Linked DNA regions of Homo sapiens. The protein of the gene in region 2 interacts with the protein of the main gene of each other region in a pairwise test. Each region holds a gene or a part of one and is shown on either strand. Other genes may lie near its edges.

Region 1 (7,000 bases), about 120 Mb from region 2:
GGTACGCGCCCCAGACCCTGACCAGAGAGCCCAGGGTCTCGGGCCAGCGCCCCTCCCGCTCAGAGCCCAGGCGCAGGACGCGGCACCAGGCACTTTCTCATCCCGAAACACCACTCGGGCATGCCTCCCTTACCCAGGCATCTTCATCTTCATGGGAGGGTGGCAGGCCCTTCGAGAAATATGAGTGCTGGGGGACCGTCCTTAAGAGACCAGCCCAGCCACACGGAGTCAGAGGGGCAAGGAGAGGCCAGGGGCACACAGAGTCATTTGGGGTTTTGTTTTTTGTTTTCTTTTGCTTTGTTTTAGACAGAGTCTCGCTCTGTCGCGCAGGCTGGAGTGCAGTGGCGCGATCTTCTCTCCCTGCAAACTCCACCTCCCGGGTTCAAGTGATTCTCCTGCCTCAGCCTCCTGAGTCAGCTTCCCCCCTCTAGGCCCCATTATCCTCCTATCCCTAAGGCCTCGAATGCTGGTATTTTCCACCTGGTATTTTCAGCTTTGACTTCTGAAATCTGGAAGTCCAACTACTTACTTTCCCATCCCTGTTGCTGCAGTAGCAGCCCCTGCAGGCTGCCCTTCCAGGATGAGGCCAGGGGAGGATGCGGGGGTCTCCTGAATGGGACCCCTGAGTAGCTGGGATTACAGGCGTGAGCCACTGCGCCCAGCCTAGTCATTTGTTTTTTAATGTAAGAGATACTTACGGAGTACTTAGGGCCTACCAACTGCTGGCAGGCCCTGAGAACAGACCCATGAACAAGACAGACAGATGGATCTCAAACTCACAAAGCCTACTTTCCAGCAGCAAAAACAGACAAGTAATAGAAATCCAGGGTGGAGACTGTGATTCAAGAAGAAATACAGGGTACCATTTAGCCTAGCAGGCAGCGGTGCACAAGTTCAGGCAGTGCTGAGGGACCACTGTGTGCCACGCAACTTTCTGCGCACTGGAAAAACAGGAGTGAATGTAAATGACCTGAATATCTCTGCCTTCAAGAGCTTCCATTCTAGAAGGAGGAGACAGACGAGTGAGTAATATGGATAACAAGCAAAGAAGACAGAGTCTGTCTAGTAATGATGAGTACACACTGACAAGAAAACCAAAGAGCTCCACCAGCAGCTCCACCTTCCAAGCAGACCCAGCCTCCACCCTCCTCATGCCTCCTGGAGGCACCTGCCTCTGCTACACTGGCCCAGGCTGCCATCATTTCATGTGAAATATTGTTGAAGAGTGACAGGATTGGGGCTGTTCTACACAGGGTGTCAGGGAAGGCCACTCGGGTAAGCGGACATCTGAATAGAGGCCTGTATGAAATAGGAGAAGAGCCATGCAGACAACTGGAGGAAAAGCATTCTCGGCAGCAGGCACAGCAGGTGCAAAGGCCCTGAGGCAGGAGGAGACTTGGTGTGTCTGAGGAATGATGGGAGCAGAGAGGAAGTTAGCATGGGTGGATCCGGTGACTGAGGGATAGAGAGGTAGGAGATGAGATCAGAGGGGTGAGGGAGGGGGGCCCTGTAGACTCTTGTATGCATTTGAAGTTTTATTCTGAGCGAGACGAGGTGGCACTGGAGACTTACAAGCTGAGGGGTGACATGGCCTGGCAAGTTTCGGGAGGAGCAATATTTCACATGAAATGATGGCAGCCTGGGTCAGGGTAGCAGAGGTGGGTGCCTCCAGGAGGCATGAGGAGGGTGGAAGTCTCCTCAGAAGGTGGAGCTGCTGGGTTTTTGTGGGATTGGATGAGGAGTGTGAAAAGATGGACTTGTCATTGACTGAGTTGAGAAAAGTTCTAGGAGGAACACATCCAGGCAGGAGGCAGGTGATCAGGAGTTCTGTTTTCTACACGTGCAGTTCAGCATGGAGATGTCAAGTAGGCAGCTGGAATTCAGAGTCTGGGGACTGGGACAAAGGGATGGGCTGCAGACAAATATTGAGAGTCACCAGCACTTAGATGGACTCTAAAACCTTTAGGAGGGGAGAAATCTCACTCGGAAGTCAGTGTAGGTGGGAAGGAAATGAAGCCCAGGTCTCCAGCATTTAGAGTTTGCAGAAATGAGGGGGAACTGACAAAGAAAACAGAGCAGAGCGCTCAGAAAGAGGAGAAAAGCCAGAAGAGTGTGATGCTCTGGAAGCCAAGCGAAGAAAGTGAGTGAAGGCGGGTGAGGGCAGAGGGTGGAATTGATACTAGGTTTGACAGAGAGGAGGTCATTGGTGACCTAGACAAGAAGAGTTTCACAGAACTTGATTTGGGTCAGTTAAAACAAGTGGGGACAGTGCCTGTGGTCACTGCCTTTTCTGTGAGGAACAGGCAGAGACCTGAGATTCACAGGGCGTAGGGAAGTCTGGGGGTGAGGAGGAGCCAGCCTGACCTGAGAAGCCTGAAGGCAGAGCTGTAGAAGTCTGAGATCACACAGAGTCTTGTCACTCAAGCTCTCAGGAGTCTGACTTATTCTGGGGCAATGGGCTGCCACCCAAGGATTGCTAGGGGAGTTTCTGTAAGATTGCTCTGCTCGAAGACTGGAGAGTGGATTGGAAGGGCAAGACGATGCAGGGGGAGGAGTCAGGAGGCCTGAACTAGGGTGCTGGCCATGTGCATGGAGAAAAGTACTCAGATGTGAACGATATTTAGACAGTGGAAGGAGCAGGACTTGTGTTTGATTTCATGTCAAGAGGGAGGAGGTGGAGGCATCAAGGATGACTCCTAAGGTGCTGTTTCGGCAGCAGGGTGGAGGTGCTACTTTTTATTCCGGAAGGAGATGCTGAGAGAGGAGGGGGTTAGGGCAGGAAAAAGAATTCTTTGATTTCCACAGTATATCTGCAGTACACCTCCCGATGGAGACATGCACTTGGTGGATTGCAGGAGCACAAGAAAAGCCCTGTGACCTTAGCCTACAGTGGCAGCAGGCATGGGGACAGCATTCATGGACCAAGGGCTAACACGGAGCTAAAAGCAGACCCTCTGTGAGACGGAACCATCCCACATGGGGCTCCTCTCTCCTGAGGTGGTCTCTGCCCTTAAAAATGTTAGCTTATGGCCGGGCGCAGTGGCTCACACCTGTAATCCCAGCACTTTGGGAGGCCAAAGTGGCGGATCACCTGAGATCAGGATTTCGAGACCAGCCTGGCCAACGTGGCAAAACTCCATCTCTACTAAAAAATACAAACATTAGCTGGGTGTGGTGGTGGGCGCCTGTAATCTTAGCTACTTGGGAGGCTGAGGCAGGAGAATGTCTTGAACCCAGGAGGCGGAGGTTGCAGTGAGCCGAGATTGCGCCACTGCACTCCAGCCTGGATGACAGAATGAGACTTGGTCTCAAAAAAAAAAAAATAGCTTATATTTCCATAAAGTAACCGGCAGTACAGAAATAAACACAAGCACAGCTGTCATGGAGATTGGTCCCCATGTCAATAATTTTTCAGTTAAAGACGTGTAAAGCCATGTTGCATTTTCAGAACCACAGGCACAAATGGAATCTGGCCTGGCCCTGTGTTCCAGAAGAAATTAAGTTTAATGCAGCCAAGTGTGGTGGCTTACGCCTGTAATCCTAAGACGCAAGAAGGCTGAGGTGGGAGGATCACTTGAACCCAAGAGTTCAAGACCAAGCCTGGGCAACATAGTGAGACCTCATCTCTACAAGAAATGAAAACACAATTAGCCGGTGTGGTGGCACATGCCTGTAGTCCCAGCTACTTGGGAGGCTGAGGCAAGAGGATAGCTTGAGCCCAGGAGGTCAAGGCTGCAGTGAGCTGAGACTGCACCACCACACTTCAGCCTGGGCAACAGAGTGAGACTCTATCTTAAAAAAGAAAAACTTTAATGCTAGATATGGCCTGTGACCAGAGCTTACCACTGCCTCCATCCAACCCTGGGTCTCCCTGCCGTCACCACCCCCTCTTCCTCATCCAGGGAACCCAGCCCAGGCCAAATTTCTGTGCTCCTCCCCCTTCCCCCATCCTCCACTTAGACTGGATTATTTTGTCCTCCTGATCACCTCCCCCACCCCAACGCTCCACCGAGTGCCTCAGACCTCCTTCTTTCCCAGCAGACTCCTGAGCCTGCAGGACTTTCCCTGAGGACCGAAGAATCAAACTTTGGAAGCAAAAGCCAGGACCCAAACCCCCAGTACAGCCCAATCATCAAACAGGGGCAAGCCCCAGTCCCGATGCAGAAAGAGGGGGCCGGGGAGAAGGAGGTATTGGGCTGCAGGGGCTGAGGGAGTGGGAGGACAGGCCTGCGAGGGGGTGCAGGCAGCGGGGAGGAGGAGGGGCCTAGCGGGGGCAGAGGCTCAGGCTGGGAGTTAGGCTGGGGCTTTAACCCTGCCTCCCTCACCCCACTCCTCCCTGGCCTCACCTTCTCTCCCAGCCCTCCCAGCTGCTCAGGCCCAAGCCTCCCATCCCCGCCAAACCTCAGCTGCCCCCAGAAGTCTACACAATCCCTGTTCCACGACACCGCCCGGCCCCACGCCCCAAGCCCTCCAATCCTATCTACAATGAGCCTGATGAACCCATAGCTTTCTATGCCATGGGCCGGGGCAGCCCTGGGGAAGCCCCCAGCAACATCTATGTGGAAGTGGAAGATGAGGGCCTACCCGCCACCCTTGGGCACCCTGTCCTACGGAAGAGCTGGTCCAGGCCTGTCCCAGGAGGCCAGGTAAATGGGTATGCAGGGAAAGGTAGGTGCAAGAAGGTCTCCCTGCAGGTAGATGGGGGAAGGTGAAGAAGGTGTTCAGAGTGGATGCCTGGGGCAGGGTAAGGGGCAGAGGTGTGAGGTGATGTGGGAAGAACAGAATGATCCAGGCACCAGCCTCCCTTCTCCAGGCCCAGAGGCTGCCCCCTCTTCTCCCCAGAGTCGCTCAGACCTCATCTTTGTCAAGCCCCCATGCCCTCCTATCTCACACAGAAAACAGAGGCCCCCAGGCAGGGTGCCCCTCCACCTCCCACATCGAGGCTTTTTTGATCTGCGTCCATCTTGTCCTGCAGGCCCTCTTCAGACGCACCTGGGGCTGACCCCACCCCGTGCCTCTCTGGCTCTCTCCCTTGGCCTTCACGGCCCTGCTGTCCTGGAGAAAAAGAGCACTTGGGTTCCCTTATGTCATCTCAGTGAGCTCAGGGGAGGGGGACCCTGCTCTCCCAGCCTGCTTCTGTGTACTCCCTGTCTCCCTCTTCCTTCTCCCCAGCCCTAAGTCTTCTTGCCTACCCTTCAAGTCAGTACCTCATGCCATGGGTTAGCCCCAGCAGCCATCCCACCCTCTCCCTCGGCCTCTGCGGCCCTCCCAAAGCCCTTCCCCAGCCTCCCTCCTCAGACCCTTCCCCATCCTCCCTCCTTGCTGGTGCCCCAGGCTCCCTGCTCAGCCTGAGCCTGCTCGCGCTCACCCACACCCCTGCCAACGTCTGCTGTCCTAGAGCTAACGTCACCTGTCCATATCTCCGTCCAAACTTTTTTCCAAGCTTCTGGTCAGTTCCCCCCAGCATCCCTGAGCCCCTCAAACTCAACACGGCCAACAGCGCTCTCACCCTTGCCCTCCAAACAGCTCGGTCCCATGTTCACTGTCCTGATTGCTAACTCTCCAGCTACCCAGCTAGCCAAGCCAGAATCCCAGGGCTCCCTCAGCACAGCTCCCTCTTTACTCCCCCAGTAAGCCACTCATTCCTGCTGGATCTCTTCCTAAGTATATTTTTCCTTCCCCCAGCTCCAGCCCCCATCATTGGGGTCTGGCTTTGTCACCCAGGCTGGAGTGCAGTGGCACAATCATAGCTCACTGCAAACTTGAACTCCTGGGTGCAAGTGATCCTCCCACCTCAGCTGAGATTACAGGCTCGAGCCACCTCACCTGGCTCCCAAGAGCTTCTTAACTGGTTTCCTAACCACCATTCTTGCCACTTCTGATCCACTCTGCACCAAAGAGCCAGAATGGTCTTGCTGAAGCAGCTGCCTGGCCCATGAAGCACTCTAGACTTGGGTTGGGTGGGGGGTCTCACCTCCTTAGCCTTACCACCAGCCACTCCCATTCTCCTAGAATGATTCACATTTCTCTAAACTCACCAAGTGGTTTCAAGCCTCCTGGGGTTTGCACCCGCCAGTATCTCTGCCTATAGCAACTTCCTGCAACCTCATCCTCCCGCTGCCTGGCAACTTTCTAATCATCCTTCAAGACCAGCTTTCCCTTCTCAGAGGCCACCCCCTGTGCCTTACACACACCTGCCATGCCACTGATCACCTGAGACATCCATCTCCTCCCATCTCCTTCTCTCTGTCCCTTCCCTAGTTTAGAGTGTGAGTTCCCTGAAGGGAGGGGCTGGGACTTACCCATCTGTTTCCAAAGCACCCAGCCCAGTGCCTGGCACAGAGCAGGTGCTCAGGAGATGTTTGTTGAATTAATGAATGAGAGGAGTTTAGATACCCTCTCTGGAAGCCAAAGTCTGTTCAGATCAGATGTCTTGAGACTGCAAGTACACCTAGGAGGCAGAGGGTAGAGGGTGTGACCTAGAACTGTCCTTCTCTCTGCAGAATACAGGTGGCTCCCAGCTGCATTCTGAGAACTCTGTGATTGGGCAAGGCCCTCCCCTGCCCCACCAGCCCCCACCCGCCTGGAGACACACCCTCCCCCACAATCTTTCTAGACAGGTGCTTCAGGACAGAGGACAGGCATGGCTTCCCCTTGGGCCTCCTCAGTAGGCGGTAAGTCTGAGCTTGGTGAGGATAACTTGGAGCATCAGGTCCAGAGACCTTCACACACACCTGGCACACTTCTCAAGAAATGTGGATGGAATAAACCATAGGTGTTCAAAGCTGGAAAGGAGCTCAGCCATCATCTATTGCAAGGATGGCAAAGAGGTGTCATCTTGCATGCCAACTCCAATCCATTGGTCGTGGCTGCCTAGAGTGCTGCATTGGAAAGGATGTTAAGGTCATATCTGAACTCAGCAGAAAAAAAGCACATGATTGATTAGTGATGTCTGCCACGGGTAAGAGCGGGAGGATGAGCAGCATTACATTTGTCCTTA
Region 2 (7,111 bases):
GCAGCTGCAAGTTTACCAAGGTCCCCATTTCTCCCCATTGTCTCCCTGACCCTAATGCTATATGTCAGTTGCCATTTATCATCATGCTTTCACTGCCTATTTTCTTCTAATAGATACATTCCCTATGGGTTTGCCTCTGTGGGAACCGGGAAGGAGCAGTGAGGACCCCTGGCAGGATAACTGGAGAATATTTCTGTATTTCCAGCTCCAGCACTACCCCTGGACGCTGGTTTGGGGCAAGCCCAGGGCAGGGAAGCCCCTCAGCTTTTCACCTGTTTCCAAGGTGGTTGTTTTTGTTTTTGTTTTGAAACAGAGTCTCACTTTGTCACCCAGGCTGGAGTGCGGTGGCATGATCTCAGCTCACTGCAACCTCTGCCTCCTGGGTTCAAGCAATTCTCCTGCCTCAGCCTCCTGAGTATCTAGGGTTACAGGCGCGTGCCACCATGCCCAGATAATTTTTATATATATTTTTTTTAGTAGAGACGGGGTTTCACCATGTTGGTCAGGCTGGTCTCGAACACCTGACCTTGTGATCCACCCGCCTCGGCCTCCCAAAGTGCTGGTATTACAGGTGTGAGCCACTGCATCCGGCCTTCCAAGGTGTCTTTACCTTCCTTGGAGCAAAGGTCTGTTCACCTTGCTCTGGGGATATGGGAAGCTTCTACAAATCTAGCCACTGTGCCGCATGACCCCCCTACTCCTGTCTTTATGCTCCATTTCCTTTCCCCAGAGTTTCTTAGCAAGTTCCTTTCAAAAATTCCATCCCTGTCTTGGCTGAATTCAGGGGTAAAGGGCTTTGTCCAGGAGATGGTGGGAGGAGTCAGTGTATACTGACAACCTACTATGAGTCAGGCTCTTTCACAAATGGTCTCTCATTTTTTCTTTTTTCTTTTTCTTTTTCTTTTTTTTTTTTTTTGAGACAAATTCTCTCTCTGTTGCTCAGGCTGGAGTGCAATAGAACAATCATGGCTCACTGCACCCTCAACCTCCTGGGCTCAAATGATCCTCCCACCTCAGCCTCCCAAATAGCTGAAACTACGGGTGTGTGCCACCATGCCCAGCTAATTTTTAAATGTTTTTTTTGTTTGTTTGTTTTTTTTTTTTTGTAGAGATGGAGTCTCTCTTTTTCTTGTTTTGAGACAGGGTCTTGGTCTATTGCCCTAGGCTGGAGTGTTATGGCATGGTCTTGGCTCACTGCAACCTCTGCCTCCCTGGCTCAGGTGATCCTCCCACCTCAGCCTTCTGAGTAGCTGGGACTAGAGGCACATGCCACCAAACCTGGCTAACTTTTGTTTTTGTAGAGATGGGGTTTCGACCAGTTTCCCAGGCTGGTCTCGAACTCCTGGGCTCAAGCAGTCCTCCCACCTTGGTCTCCCAAAGTTCTGAGATTATAGGCATAAGCCACTGTACCTGGCCTAGTCTCTTATTTTTAGTATCAGGAAACTGAGGCTTAGAGAAGTGAAGTGACTAGCTTCACTAGTTACAGTAATGATCTGAACAAAGCCAAACAGAAAGTTAGCAACAGTGGCAGATCTGCTGATAAAAGGTAGGCCTCTTGTTCCTGAGCTAGATCTTCTTCTACCATACCAGGCTGCCTGGGCCAGAACTAAAGAAAAGAGCTGGGGCCGGGTGTGGTGGCTCACGCCTGTAATCCCAACACTGGGAGGCCGAGGCAGGCCAATCACGAGGTCAGGAGATTGAGGCCATCCTGGCTAACATGGTGAAACCCTGTCTCTACTAAAAATACAAAAAATTAGCTGCGCATGGTGGCACGTACCTGTAATCCTAGCTATTTGGGAGGCTGAGGCAGGAGAATCACTTGAACCCAGGAGGCAGAGGTTGCAGTGATCCAAGATGGCGCCACTGCACCCCAGCCTGGGAGACAGAGCAAGACTCCGTCTCAAAAAAAAAAAAAAAAAAAAAAAAAAAAAAGAAAAAGAAAAAAAGAGAAAAAGAAAAGAGCTGGGGTTATTAAAGAGAGATACGGAGATGGAAGCCAGCCCTGGGAGATGTGGCATCTGCCTGGGGACGTTGGACTCATACCCCTGAGAAGATAGAGGAGATGCAGCTACAAAGTTTCAGATTCTGAGACTGGAAAGAATTGAATGGGAAGACATGGACTTGCCCTTCCCATCACCCTTTCAGTTCCTGCCCTTGGCTCTAACCTGGGTAAGGGATGCGGCCGTGGGTGACAATTTCCGTCAGCAGGATCCCAAAAGACCACACATCTGACTTGATGGTGAATGTCCCGTAGTTAATGGCTTCTGGCGCTGTCCACTTAATGGGAAACTTGGCCCCTAAGGAGGAGGCAGAGTGAGGTCACCTGGGTCTGCTTGGCCAGACCCTGCAGGGCCCAGACCACCCTTAAATCTCACACGTACCCTCCCTGGCTGTGTACTCGTTGTCCTCAATGAGGCGTGCTAGGCCAAAGTCTGCAATCTTGCAGCTCAGGGTGTCAGACACCAGAATGTTGGCAGCCCGAAGGTCACGATGAATATAATTCCGCTCTTCAATGAATGCCATGCCTTCTGCAATCTGCAGGCCAAACACAGATCAGCGGTCCTGAGCCAGATGTCTTCACGTCACTGGTCTGTTCCCTTGCCCAGCCCCCCTCCCCAGTCTCCTTACTTGGGCTGCCATGTCCAGGAGTTTGTTGATGGTCAACTTGATGCCTGAAGGGGTCTTGAGAAAATCCACTAGACTCCCTGTGGGCAGAAGCAAGAGTTGCTGGCCCAAGTTGCCCCAGGGGGAGGCCCCCAGACCTTTCTCCTCCAACTGGGAGTCTAGAAGTGTGTCTGACATGTGAAAAGGAAGATTGAAGAGTGAGAATGGAGGAGTGTGTGTTCAGGGTAAGGATGCCCAGGATATGTAAAGGTTTTTTTGCAGAGGGGCTAGGGTAGAGCATGCTGGGAGGGATCTGTAGGTTTTTCATCACCAATAAGGTAGAACCTAGAATCCTCAACTAGTATCCTAAGCTTGGCATGGTCCACACTGGTAGCTTCTTCTCTTTCCCCCACTCTGCCTTTGACTTCAAACAGTTTAGCAATTTTGAGATCCTGCACTCAGACCACTAGGCTCTCACCCCAAAGCCTCTTTGTTTCATCTCTGCCTGCTAAAAAAAATTCTACTTTTCTTTCGTGGCCCTGCTAGACTGCCCCACTAGGAAGCCTCTCTAGATCCTACCAGGCATAATAAACTGGATCATCATCTACACTCCCATGGGCATGCTGGAACTTTCCCATGGCACAAACTCTGGTTTCCCCAGTAGCTGTAACTAAAATCAGGTTTCCCTGACAACAGGAACCTTGTTTCATCCATCCATGTTCCTGGTGCCCAGCCGAGAGTAAGAAACAATAACTATGTGCTGAATATATTGGATGGAATAAGAAAGAGGGGGTCTGGGGGTCTGAGGGACCACCTCTCTAATAGTGGAGGGCAGCTGGACATGGATGGGAGTTGCTAGGATGCAGTGAGTGACCAATGGCCCTTCCCAAGAGATTAAAACCCTGTAAAAGGATGACAGCAACCTGAGTGTCCCCACTTTGAGTGCTGAACTAGTTACCAAAGACAAAGACCTCACCTACACACAGCAAATACATAGACATAGATATACTGCCATTCTTCCATTGTATCCATGGCAGATGTTACTAATCATTCCTGGCACTCACTTCCAATGAACCTCAGAATCCTTCTCCAGCACTACAAGCAACTACCAATCAAAGTCGATACACATGATAGGCTGGGCATGGTGGCTCACATCTGTAATCCCAGCACTTTGGGAGGCCAAGGCGGGAGGATCACCTGAGGACAGGAGATCGAGACCAGCCTAGCCAACAAGGCGAAAACCTGTCTCTACTAAAAATACAAAAATTAGCCAGGCATGGTGGCACATGCTTGTAGTCCCAGCTACTTGGGAGACTGAGGCATGAGAATCATTTGAACCCAGGAGGGGGAGGCTGAAGTGAGCCGAGATCATGCCACTGCACTCCAGCCTGGAGGACAGAGTGAGACTCAAAAAAAAAAAAGATACACATGACATAATCTATTTGCCATTTCCCATTAGCCAATGAACAGCTTGTTTCTCTTCCTGAAAAAAGGATAGATCTTACACTCCCAAAGAATCAGAGCCAGATAACAGCAACAAACTTATTGATCAGTTACTATATGGTAGCCATAGTTTTGTGGGTTTTTTGTTTTGAGACAAGGTCTCGCTCTGTTACCCAGGTTGGAGTGCAGTGGTGCAATCACAGCTCAGTGCAGCCTCAACCTCCTGGGCTCAAGTGATCCTCCCACCTCAGCCTCCCAAGTAGCTGGGACTACAGGCATACACCACTATGCCCAGCTAATTTTTAAACATTTTTTTGTAGGAATGAAGTCTCGCTATGTTGCACAGACTGGTCTTGAACTTCTGGGCTCAAGTGATCCACCCACCTTGGCCTCCCAAAGTGCTGGAGTTATAGGCTTGAGCCACAGCACCTGGAAGTAGGCATAGTTCTAACTGCTCTGTATGCATTAATTATTTCATCCTCACAAGACCCTGTGAGGAAGTTACTAACGCGTTATTATAGTAGGAAACCATGGCAGAAAGAGGTGATATAATTATCACAAAGCCATAAAATCATGAAGCCAGGCTTCTGACCCAGGCAGTCAGACTCTAGAGGCCTTGATGAATACTCTGTATTATTTCTGGTGAGCCCATTTAGATTTCTGCTGTTATACTTGGGGAAACTGAGCACCAGAGACAGTGCAGGCACTTGGCCTGTCACACGGCAAATCGGTGTGAACAAAGCTGAAGCTAGAAACTCATATTCCTCTTCCTGGGGCTCTCACTCTGTCCAGTAACAGACCAAGAGGGGTGCAGGGGTGGGGGTCTCACTCAGAACTGAAAAAGAGGGCTTTGGGGGCAGATCTGCCCTCCTAGGGCTCAGGGGCAGAAGGGAGAGAAACAGGGCTAGGGACCCACTTGCTTTCTGAGATCAAGCATCCTGAGATCAAGGTAGGGCTTTGAAGAAGGCAAACAGAATGGCAGGTCAGGGAAGGTTGGGGTGAATGCTCTTCCAGAACATTCTTGCCACCTTAGGCTTGCCCCCAGACAGGATCAGATCAGAGGATACACCTTTTTCTCATGCCTGGAGGTGAGTCTTTTTTTTTTTTTTTTTTTTGATAGAGTCTTGCTCTGTCACCCAGGCTGGAGTTCAGTGGCATGATCTCAGCTCACTGCAACTGTAGCCTCCACCTCCCGGATTAAAGGGATTCTCCTGCCTCAGTCTTCTGAGTAGCTGGGATTACAGGCATGTGCCACCACACCTGGCTACTTTTTGTATTTTTAGTAGAGACAGAGTTTCACCATATTGGTCAGGCTGGTCTCGAACTCCTGACCTCGTGATCTGCCCGCCTCGGCTCCCAAAGTGCTGGGATTACAGGCCTGAGCCACCGCGCCCGGCTGGAGGTGAGTCTCCAGGGGGCAGGAAAGCTCAAGAAACCCTCCTTGCTTGAGCTTTGGGCCAGAAGAAAAGGTGTATTTCCACCCTCTGGCAGGGACAGCAGGGAGAGCAGTATCCCCTGGTAGCCGACTCGGGTAGCACCCACCATTCTCCATGTATTCAGTGATGATGTAGATGGGCTCCTGGGTGACCACAGCGTAGAGCCGAACCAGCCGCTGGTGTTGCAGCTGCTTCATGAGGTTGGCCTCGGCCAGGAAGGCGTCCGGGGACATGCTGCCCTGCTTCAGGCTCTTCACCGCCACCTTCGTGTGCCCGTTGTAGTACCCTGGGTCGGGGAAGGGAAGGAGTGGGAAAGTCGCCAGGCAGCTGTCCTGGGACTCTCATCACCTCAGCGGCCCCTCCCGTTCCCCTCTTCCCAGGCAGTCCTGGAGGCCACACTCACCCATCCACACCTCCCCGAACTGTCCAGCCCCCAGCCGCTCCACCAGCTTCAGCGTCTCCCTGGGAACCTCCCACTCGTCCTCCCACCACGGCTTCTGGGGCTTCTGGGTCTGGCAGGGGCGGCTCAACCGTGTGCACAGCCCATCTGAAGCATCTGCGAGGACGAGGGAGGGGTGAAGGCTGTCAATAGGGCAGGCCTCGTATTGACACCACCTCCCCCACTTCTCCAAGCCCCCATCTAGGTGAAGTGGACTAGCAAGGGGGTGTGGGGCTGTCACCCAAACACTTGGGGCCGTAGGGTCAGGTTCCACACCTCACCCACTGCGGGGAATGGAGTAGGGCATTGAAAGATGGATGGGGGACACCTGAGGGGGACTGAGGGGAGATAGGCTGATAGGGCACGGGGGAGGGGTCCCGTCGGGCTCACTGGTGTAATGGCGGACCAGTTCATGCAGGCCGGGAAAAGTGATTCGAGGGGAGATGTAGAAGCCACCGTTGTCCAGATTACGGATCTTGTAATGTTTCACCACCTCTCCCTGGTTCTGGTCGAAGTCCCGGACCGACAGTGAAAACGATCCTGAATGAATGAATGGATGGACAAAGCGACGAAAGAACGCAGTGAGTCTGGCCCGCCACCGCGCCCCCACCTTGGGCTCACCCAGCACCCCCAACTCCGGGTCATCCCGCGCCCCCACCTCGGGCTCATCCCGCGTCCCCCTCCGACTCACCCCGTGTCTCCACCTCGGGCTCACCCTGCGCCCCCCCTCGGGCACACCCCGGGGCACCCCCGCGCCCGGTCGAGACCGCCGCCCGCTCACCCGCGGTGCTCTCGCTCTCCCGGATGAGGAAGGAGCCGTGAGTGTTCCCGGGCGCCAGGAGCTGCCGCTCCGCGTCCTTGCGGCTCAGGTTCTTGAAGAACCAGCTGTGCAGGGCGGAAGCGAACGAAGGCCGTCGGCTGTCGTCGGATCTTCCTCCGTGGCCCTCAAGCCTTCACCGCCACCCCAGGCCTACTCCCTGCTCCAGGATCCCTAGATCTGCTCCTACCCACCCCCACGACGGGTCCCCACTTACGGTTCGGGCTCCAGGCTGTTCGCTTTGGCCACAAAATTGAAGGGGATGAAGCCTTCCTGGCCCGTGGTCAGGGACTGCGCCTTCCACCACTCGCCGCTCCTGCGCCACGGAGGTGGGTCAGTGTGGCTCGCTCAGCCGTCGACCTGAGACCCTCC
Region 3 (7,000 bases), on a different chromosome or scaffold from region 2:
GCTCAAGGTGGGCAACCTGGGCCCAACGCCAGGTTCCTGCCAGGTGCCAGCCCCCGAGGCCAGGGGAGCTGGGCAGGCCAGGAGTTCCGCCATACACTCACCGGGTAGGCAGGAAGCAGTCCTCCGGGACCTACGAGGTACTGGTTGTGCAGCAGGGGAGGCACCCCCTGAGGTAAGTTTGGGGGTGCTTTGCCTGTATAGAGGGAAAAATCAAATGGAGTGAAATGGTCACCACAAAGAGTGAGAGTCCTCAGCTGCTTCAGGAGGAGGCACAGTCACTGAGCTACCCCAGATGGGTTCAAAGAAGGGCAGTGGCCGAATGAGGCAGAGGGTCATTCTACAAAGCAGTGAAGGGGAGACAGAAAGCCCGGCCACCACACTGAGGTTGTTTCAACGTCAGAGAGTTCCGGGCCCAGACAAAAGCAGCCCCTTTCCCCCAGTCCCTAAGGTCCCACTGCACTGAGCAAAGAGAAATATAAAAAGAATCTGCCTCCTCCAAAGAGGGCAAGGAAGCCATGCAGTGCCAGGAGAGGGACAGGCTGAGTTCGAAGTCGGTTTTAGCAGCGACCATCAAATCATAGTCTGCTGGGCCTACAGACAGCCTAGGTCTGCAGTCGTGGAGCCCACCATAAGTCATCCCTGGCCCCTCCAAGTCACAATGTCAACTCGGCTCCAGGAAAGAACAAAGAGGAAAGACTGAAAAGCTAGAAGCACGCAGAGGCCAGGAATCCTGCAAGGAAGAATTCATCCCCATCAGGGGTGGGGAGATTGGGCCTCAAGGTCAGTGGAACACGCAGCGCACTCGGCGGGCCTGAGACTCTCCTGACACCTGCACTGCCTTCCTGGGACGCCAAGCAGGCACCTTTGAGGGGCTCAGGGGTGGGCAGGAAAGGCCTCTGGAGCAAATACCTGAGGTCACCAAGGGCGCGGCCCTGCTACTGCTGCTGGATGCACTCGCGGGGGTCCCACCCAGACAGAGGCTGTTCGCGGTGTTCATGCTACTGGACAGGCTGGCGCCTGAGGATGCGGAACTTGAGACGGAGGTCGCTGCCGTGGAGAAGGTGGCTGAGGACTGGTGGGAAGAGGCGCTCTCCACACTGGCATGCTGGCAAAAGAAAAGCCAGGACACATGGATCTGGAGGCAGAGGAGGAGGGTGCTGGGGAGAGCCTGGCCTGGCGCTTGGGCCCAAGTCTCAAGGCTGAGCAGGCAGGCAATGATGTAACCACCCAGGCTCCCTTAAGGTGAGAGGCTCTGTGCTCAGTGCTCACTGCGGCCCCTCACATAGCAGCTGGTTCCAGCCATCAGGATACAATACATAAACTGAACATCAAAACTATTAACATTAAGCTTTAATGACCACAACTCTCTGTAAAAATCCTTCAAGTTGCTCATGCTTGGCATCCAAAATGAGGGCATAGAAATCCCAAGATAACTTCGGATCATAAATGAACACAGACTATCTGAATATGGGACAAGTACCTACCTCAGAGCAAAGCAAACAGTCTGAGAAGAGGCGAGCACAGGCCACAGGAAGCCCAGCGTAAGTCTCAATCTTTTGGAGATTTCCCTTCTATTGGGATTCTCAGCCACTGTGGTCTGGAAACAGGAGGCTGAGAGAGGCCTTTGCTCCAAAACCTGGTGACACCTTTCAGTCCACCAATGCCTCACCAGTGCCCACCTAAAAGGGCATGGCCTGCCACTTATGCCTGTTTGACAAGGTACCCCTGTGAAGAAAGAGTGAACCAGCGGATGCTCCATCAGCCCCGAGTCCCAGAAGCCCTGCCTAGCTGCCCAACCCTAGCAACAGGGTCCTATGAAGAACTTCAAGCTCCGAGCAGGTAGGTGGGGGGCACACCTAGGTGGACAAGGCAAGTCTCAAAAAAGGGAAGAAAAGCTCTGTAAGAGGGAGACCAGTCTCCAAACCAGGACATAGAAAGCAGCATATAAACTCGTAGAAGAAAAGCCAAAGAACGGGAAGGGCCCAGGAGAAGGACCCAACCTGCCTGCGCAGACTAACTCTCCGCCGCCATCCCATGCCCACAGGTCACTACCCGCCTGGGCACTGGCTTTACAGAGCTAACATCCAGAACAGATTCACCAAGGTAAAGACAGCCAAAAACATGGTTTCCTGGGGCTCCAAGGCGTCTTGTTCCTTCAGCACAGATGGGCAGGACCAGGCCGGAGAGAGCCCCACCAGGAGCGGGCCAAAGGATGCACTGGCCTGCCCACCAACTAGGTTCTCACTAAGGAGGCAGACTCCCCACCAACTGCCACAGAAATCTGGAGCAGCTCTGACCAGTGCTCGCAAGTGTACTTGGATATATACAACCTTTTAATCTCGGAAGGAAAAATGAACATTCTCCATCGCTAAGAGATGCTCACTAGGGAACTAGGTCCTGACTTGCTGAAAGGGACTCAAGAGTCATCTGGCAAGTCTCTTCTCCCTTAGCTGCCTGACAGGGTTCCTGTCTCTGGCCCTCATCTTCCAGAACTGGGAGTACATCAACCTGCTGAATTAAAAAGTCAACACTAATTTTCAAGGCTTCGCTCAGTCCATCCAATGGGCCCTATGCAGTCAACTCCCCAGGACAGGCCCAGAGAAGTAAAGGCAGGAGAAGATGCTAAGATTTCCTTTATGTATTGATGGAGAGTGGTAAAGATATAACTACAAGAAAATGGAAGAAAATACACAGATCTATGTAAAAAAAAATCATAAACAGCAAACTTAGGGAAAAATACCTGTACTTCCCATCACCAAGGGCTCCCTAATATAGAAATAGAGACCAAAGACCTGACAAAAAAAGGAACCAAGAATATAAATAGCTCACATAGGCCGGGCACGGTGGCTCACGCCTGTAATCCCAGCACTTTGGGAGGCCGAGGCAGGTGGATCACCTGAGATCAGGAGTTTGAGACCAGCCTGGTCAACACAGTGAAACCCTGCCTCTATTAAAATAATAAAAATATTAGCTGGGCCTGGTGGCGTGTGCCTGTAATCCCAGCTACTAGGGAGGCTGAGGCAGGAGAACTGCTTGAACCTGGGAGGTGGAGGTTGCACTAAGCTGAGATCATGCCATTGCACTCCAGCCTAGGCCACAAGAGTAAAACTCCGTCTCAGAAAAATAATAAGAAATAAATAAATAAAATAAAAATTAAAAACTCACATAAAGGAAATCAAATGGTTTTCAAATATATAAAAAAAAGGATGTACAACCTCATTAAAAACTAGACTGATGGGCCATTTTTCTGCTAACATATTAAGGAAATACAAATGTTTAATAACACCATTTTGAGGATGCCATGGTGTAATAGGATATTTCATTCACCGCCAGTGGGAGGTAAACAGGGTTGAATCACTATGCGGGGCAATCTGCAAATGTGTATAAAATCATAAATGCCTTGCTGTTCCACATCACGTACTGACCCGCTACATACAGCTATACACATGAAACAACATATGTAGGTTATCAAATGCAACATTCTCTGTGGTATCAAGACTGAAAACGACCCTAAATGGACGGCTGCTTAAATAACCTTAAATAACATCATAAAGCAGAACTGTGGGGAAACAACAACAACAACAACAAAAAACCCTTAAGTTTCAACATGGAAACATCAAGATACACTTGTGGGGATACACAAGTGGGGAAAAAAAAGTTGAAGGACACTGTACATAAAATACTCTCATTTATGTAACAAGAGAAAAAGAATAAAAAGGGCAGATGATGGCCGGGCGCGGTGGTTCACGCCTGTAATCCCACCACTTTGGGAGGCCGAGGCGGGTGGATTACGAGGTCAGGAGTTTGAGACCAGTCTGACCAACATAGTGAAATCCCGTCTCTACTAAAAATACAAAAATTATCCGGGCATGGTGGTATGCGCCTGTAACCCCAGCTACTCAGGAGACTGAGGCAGGAGGATCGCTTGAACCCGGGAAGTGGAGGTTGCAGTGAGCTGAGATTGCGCCATTGCACTCCAGCCTAGGCGACAGAGTGAGACTGCATCTCAAAAAAAAAAAAAAAAAAAAAAAGCGGATGATAATGGGGAAATGACTACATGTATGCACTGCGTGTTTTGACTTTTATTTATTAAAAGGATGGAGAAAATGTAAGGGTAGAGCCAAGTAGATGAGAGACAGAAAAACTTTTCATTGTCTATCTTTCCATAACTTTTCAGATGAAATATTATGAACAAACAGTTGACCCCTGAACAACACAGGCTTGAAATGCATGGGTCCACTTACAGGCAGATTTCTTTTTCAACCCAATGCACGCATACATAATTTGAAAACACCCATATTTGGAAGGCTGACTTTTCCTATAGGTGGGTTCCACAGGGGCAACTGTGGGACTTGAGAATGTGCAGATTTTGGTGTATGCAGTGGTCCTGGAATGAATCCCCTGCATATATGGAGGGACAACTGTATTAGCAATGTCACAGTTCTGTCATGCTGACAAAGTATGGGACCCACTGGATGAGACGATTCTGGCTGTGGCAGGCTGGAATACATGGTCTGGAGGTTTTTTTTTGAGGAGATGGAGAGTGCAGCTCCCCATGAGTGCAGGAGCACTGGGCTCCCAGGCAGCAGTGGCACGGACACAGAGGACAGCTCCACGGCACTCCTGCTGAGGTCAGCTCACCACTCCCATGAGCCACAGAGGGCAGGGGCAGAGGGACAGGCAGAGGTGTCCACACTATGCTCTCCTTTGAAAGTGGCAGTTTGTGTGTTTTATGATAAAAGATTCTGTGTAAGGTTTGACTTGGAACACTAGAGTATGAAAGCCACAGCATTAGCCAGATCCAGAGGAAAGGACAGGATGTCCCTTTTCCACCACCTCACTCTGCTGGTGAGCTGCTGTCTTCTTCAGAGGACACCAAGTTCATCAGTTTCCTGCCTCCTCCATTCGTCTGCACCCTAATCCTTCCTCCCAGCCTGTGGACCTGCCTACTCCAACCTCGCCCAACACCTCCTGTTGTCCAGGAGCATGCACTTTTTGTTAATCCAGGCACCTTTCTATCCTCCCAATAGAGGCTCCAGCCTCTCTTAAGTTTTCATTGCATGCCCTCTACAATCCTCCTCCCTCCTCTCCATCTCACTACCATTCACTCCGCAACCCACCACAATCTGGCTGACTCCTACCACTGAAAGCCATGCTCACGGCTCCACGACCCACTGAGCCACACCTCAATAACCATAATCTAGGGCTACTCTTTGGCATATGAGGAAAATTAAAGCTGGCGCGCCGACTCCAGCCCTCCTGCCTGGCTTCTCGGCAGTGCATGTTTGCTTCCACTCCTGCCCTCCACCATCTAGACTCCCTTCTCCAACATTGACCTTCTTGCAATCTCTGCGTCTGAGTCAGGAAAGAAGGCACGAGGAAAGATCAAACAGCAAATTCCTGGGAGCAAGGTCACCACCTGACACTCCTGCCAATGACAGATAAGGTCTGGAGCAATGATTCTTCCCAGGCGCTACAAACTTAGAAAGCAAGATGTCCCCAGATGGTGCCCAGGAAATCAGAAGCTCGAACCAGATCATGCCATCAAGACATTTCAGCCAAGCAACTCTAGATTATCAGACACTAAAAATCAGACTGAAGCCCCAGCTGCATGTGACTAAGCTCCAGGCTCCCCAAGCATGGCGGAGGAAGAGGAAGCCGCGCAGACACTTACTGTGTGTGACGTGCTCGAGGAGAGGGCTGCATGTGCAGAGAGGCTGCTCTGGTGGCTGGAGAGCGAACTAGAAGACAAAACAGAGCGCCGTATGTCCACCTGAACAAGTGACTCCAGATGAACAAGACGCACGTGGGTCAGTGAGCTAGATTCAAACTTATCATAGTCCCTAGCACAGGACCGGCTTCAGACCCATCCTCATTCCTTATCCCCACAGAGCCCAGTGATGGGGTCCTGGTGGACGGGAATGACTCGCCATGAGGTCTGGAAAACTCCAGAGCCAGCTTCCCTCAACGACATCCATTTGCTCCTCAGATGCGAAAAGTGAAGACAGAGTTGCACTAAGAACACGGTCATCCTTGACAATCCCATTCAATCTGTGAACGAGGGATCAAAGTTCCTATGCTCAACTCCACATGCCAATTCCCATCAAATCCACTTTTGCTCCTAGCTAAAGAGTGATGGAGAACACTCCTCAGAAGACACAGGTAGCAACGCCACCCATTTTCCTACACCTTGTTCTAATAACATCGTTTCTTCAGCCATGGAAAGTTCAAGTCAGACACCTGCTCAGAAATCCATCATTCTCATTCCACCTCAGTGACATGGGCCCAGCGATGCCCAGAGAGGCTAGGCTCAGGCACCCTCTGGAGGGTGAAGACAGGTAGGAGGGAGCTGCTGGCCTCACCCTACTCCCAGGGGACCCAGTGCTCTGTGCCAGCAGAGGCGGTACAAGCAGGCAAGGTTTCCATATCTGGTGGTTTTAAGGAACAACCTGGCCAAAACCTAAGCTACAGTCGTAATGCAAAAGCCCAGGACATCACGTCAGAGACAACAAGTGTGCTCTGTTCATGAAAGCAACCTTCTACAGGAGCTCCAGGACTTGCCCCAAGGTACTTCTCACTTTGGGCCCACACCTTCCCCATACCTGCTAAGCTGAGAGAGAGGGCTGCTAGTCAGGTCGCCAGTGTGCTGGGATGTGGACGGCAGAAGTGCAGTGCAGGAGGTGGTGCTGGGCAGGGAGCTCACAGACGGGAGGGCAGAGGGAGGGCCTGTTGTCTTTGGAGCTGGAACAGATGAAGTAGCTGTAAGAAGCAGATCTGTTTATTTCTAAAACCAATCCTAAGTGCCTGAAAATATGCTCAATATCTTGTGACATGTCAGCCTCAGTTGAGACGTCCATAAAGTTACATTCCCCAGGAAAATGCCAAGCATATCGCCAGATAGCCCTTTGTCTGTCAAACAACACTATCAAAGGACACCACACCATGGTCAGCTGTTCAAGATGCAGCAAAGAATAGGAAATGACACCTTTATAACCCAACC

The links.
Region 1: the proteins of LCK (region 2) and SH2D2A interact in binary tests that used the Homo sapiens proteins (3 or more experiments, as listed by UniProt).
Region 3: the proteins of LCK (region 2) and UBAP2 interact in binary tests that used the Homo sapiens proteins (3 or more experiments, as listed by UniProt).

Annotation. Positions count from the first base shown.
Region 1 is NC_000001.11:156,806,849-156,813,848, reverse strand, and holds part of SH2D2A (SH2 domain-containing protein 2A), read left to right. Parts: coding exon 1-1; intron 2-4,041; coding exon 4,042-4,188; intron 4,189-4,358; coding exon 4,359-4,646; coding exon of another isoform or gene 4,647-4,712; exon of another isoform or gene 4,713-6,503; coding exon 6,504-6,671; 3' UTR 6,672-6,674; exon of another isoform or gene 6,675-7,000. UniProt on the Homo sapiens protein: Could be a T-cell-specific adapter protein involved in the control of T-cell activation. May play a role in the CD4-p56-LCK-dependent signal transduction pathway. Could also play an important role in normal and pathological angiogenesis.
Region 2 is NC_000001.11:32,275,265-32,282,375, reverse strand, and holds part of LCK (tyrosine-protein kinase Lck), read right to left. Parts: intron 7,056-7,111; coding exon 6,957-7,055; intron 6,808-6,956; coding exon 6,704-6,807; intron 6,463-6,703; coding exon 6,313-6,462; intron 6,040-6,312; coding exon 5,887-6,039; intron 5,770-5,886; coding exon 5,590-5,769; intron 2,706-5,589; coding exon 2,629-2,705; intron 2,536-2,628; coding exon 2,382-2,535; intron 2,298-2,381; coding exon 2,166-2,297; intron 1-2,165. UniProt on the Homo sapiens protein: Non-receptor tyrosine-protein kinase that plays an essential role in the selection and maturation of developing T-cells in the thymus and in the function of mature T-cells. Plays a key role in T-cell antigen receptor (TCR)-linked signal transduction pathways.
Region 3 is NC_000009.12:33,926,888-33,933,887, forward strand, and holds part of UBAP2 (ubiquitin-associated protein 2), read right to left. Parts: intron 6,742-7,000; coding exon 6,603-6,741; intron 5,742-6,602; coding exon 5,675-5,741; intron 1,106-5,674; coding exon 910-1,105; intron 194-909; coding exon 102-193; intron 1-101. UniProt on the Homo sapiens protein: Recruits the ubiquitination machinery to RNA polymerase II for polyubiquitination, removal and degradation, when the transcription-coupled nucleotide excision repair (TC-NER) machinery fails to resolve DNA damage. May promote the degradation of ANXA2.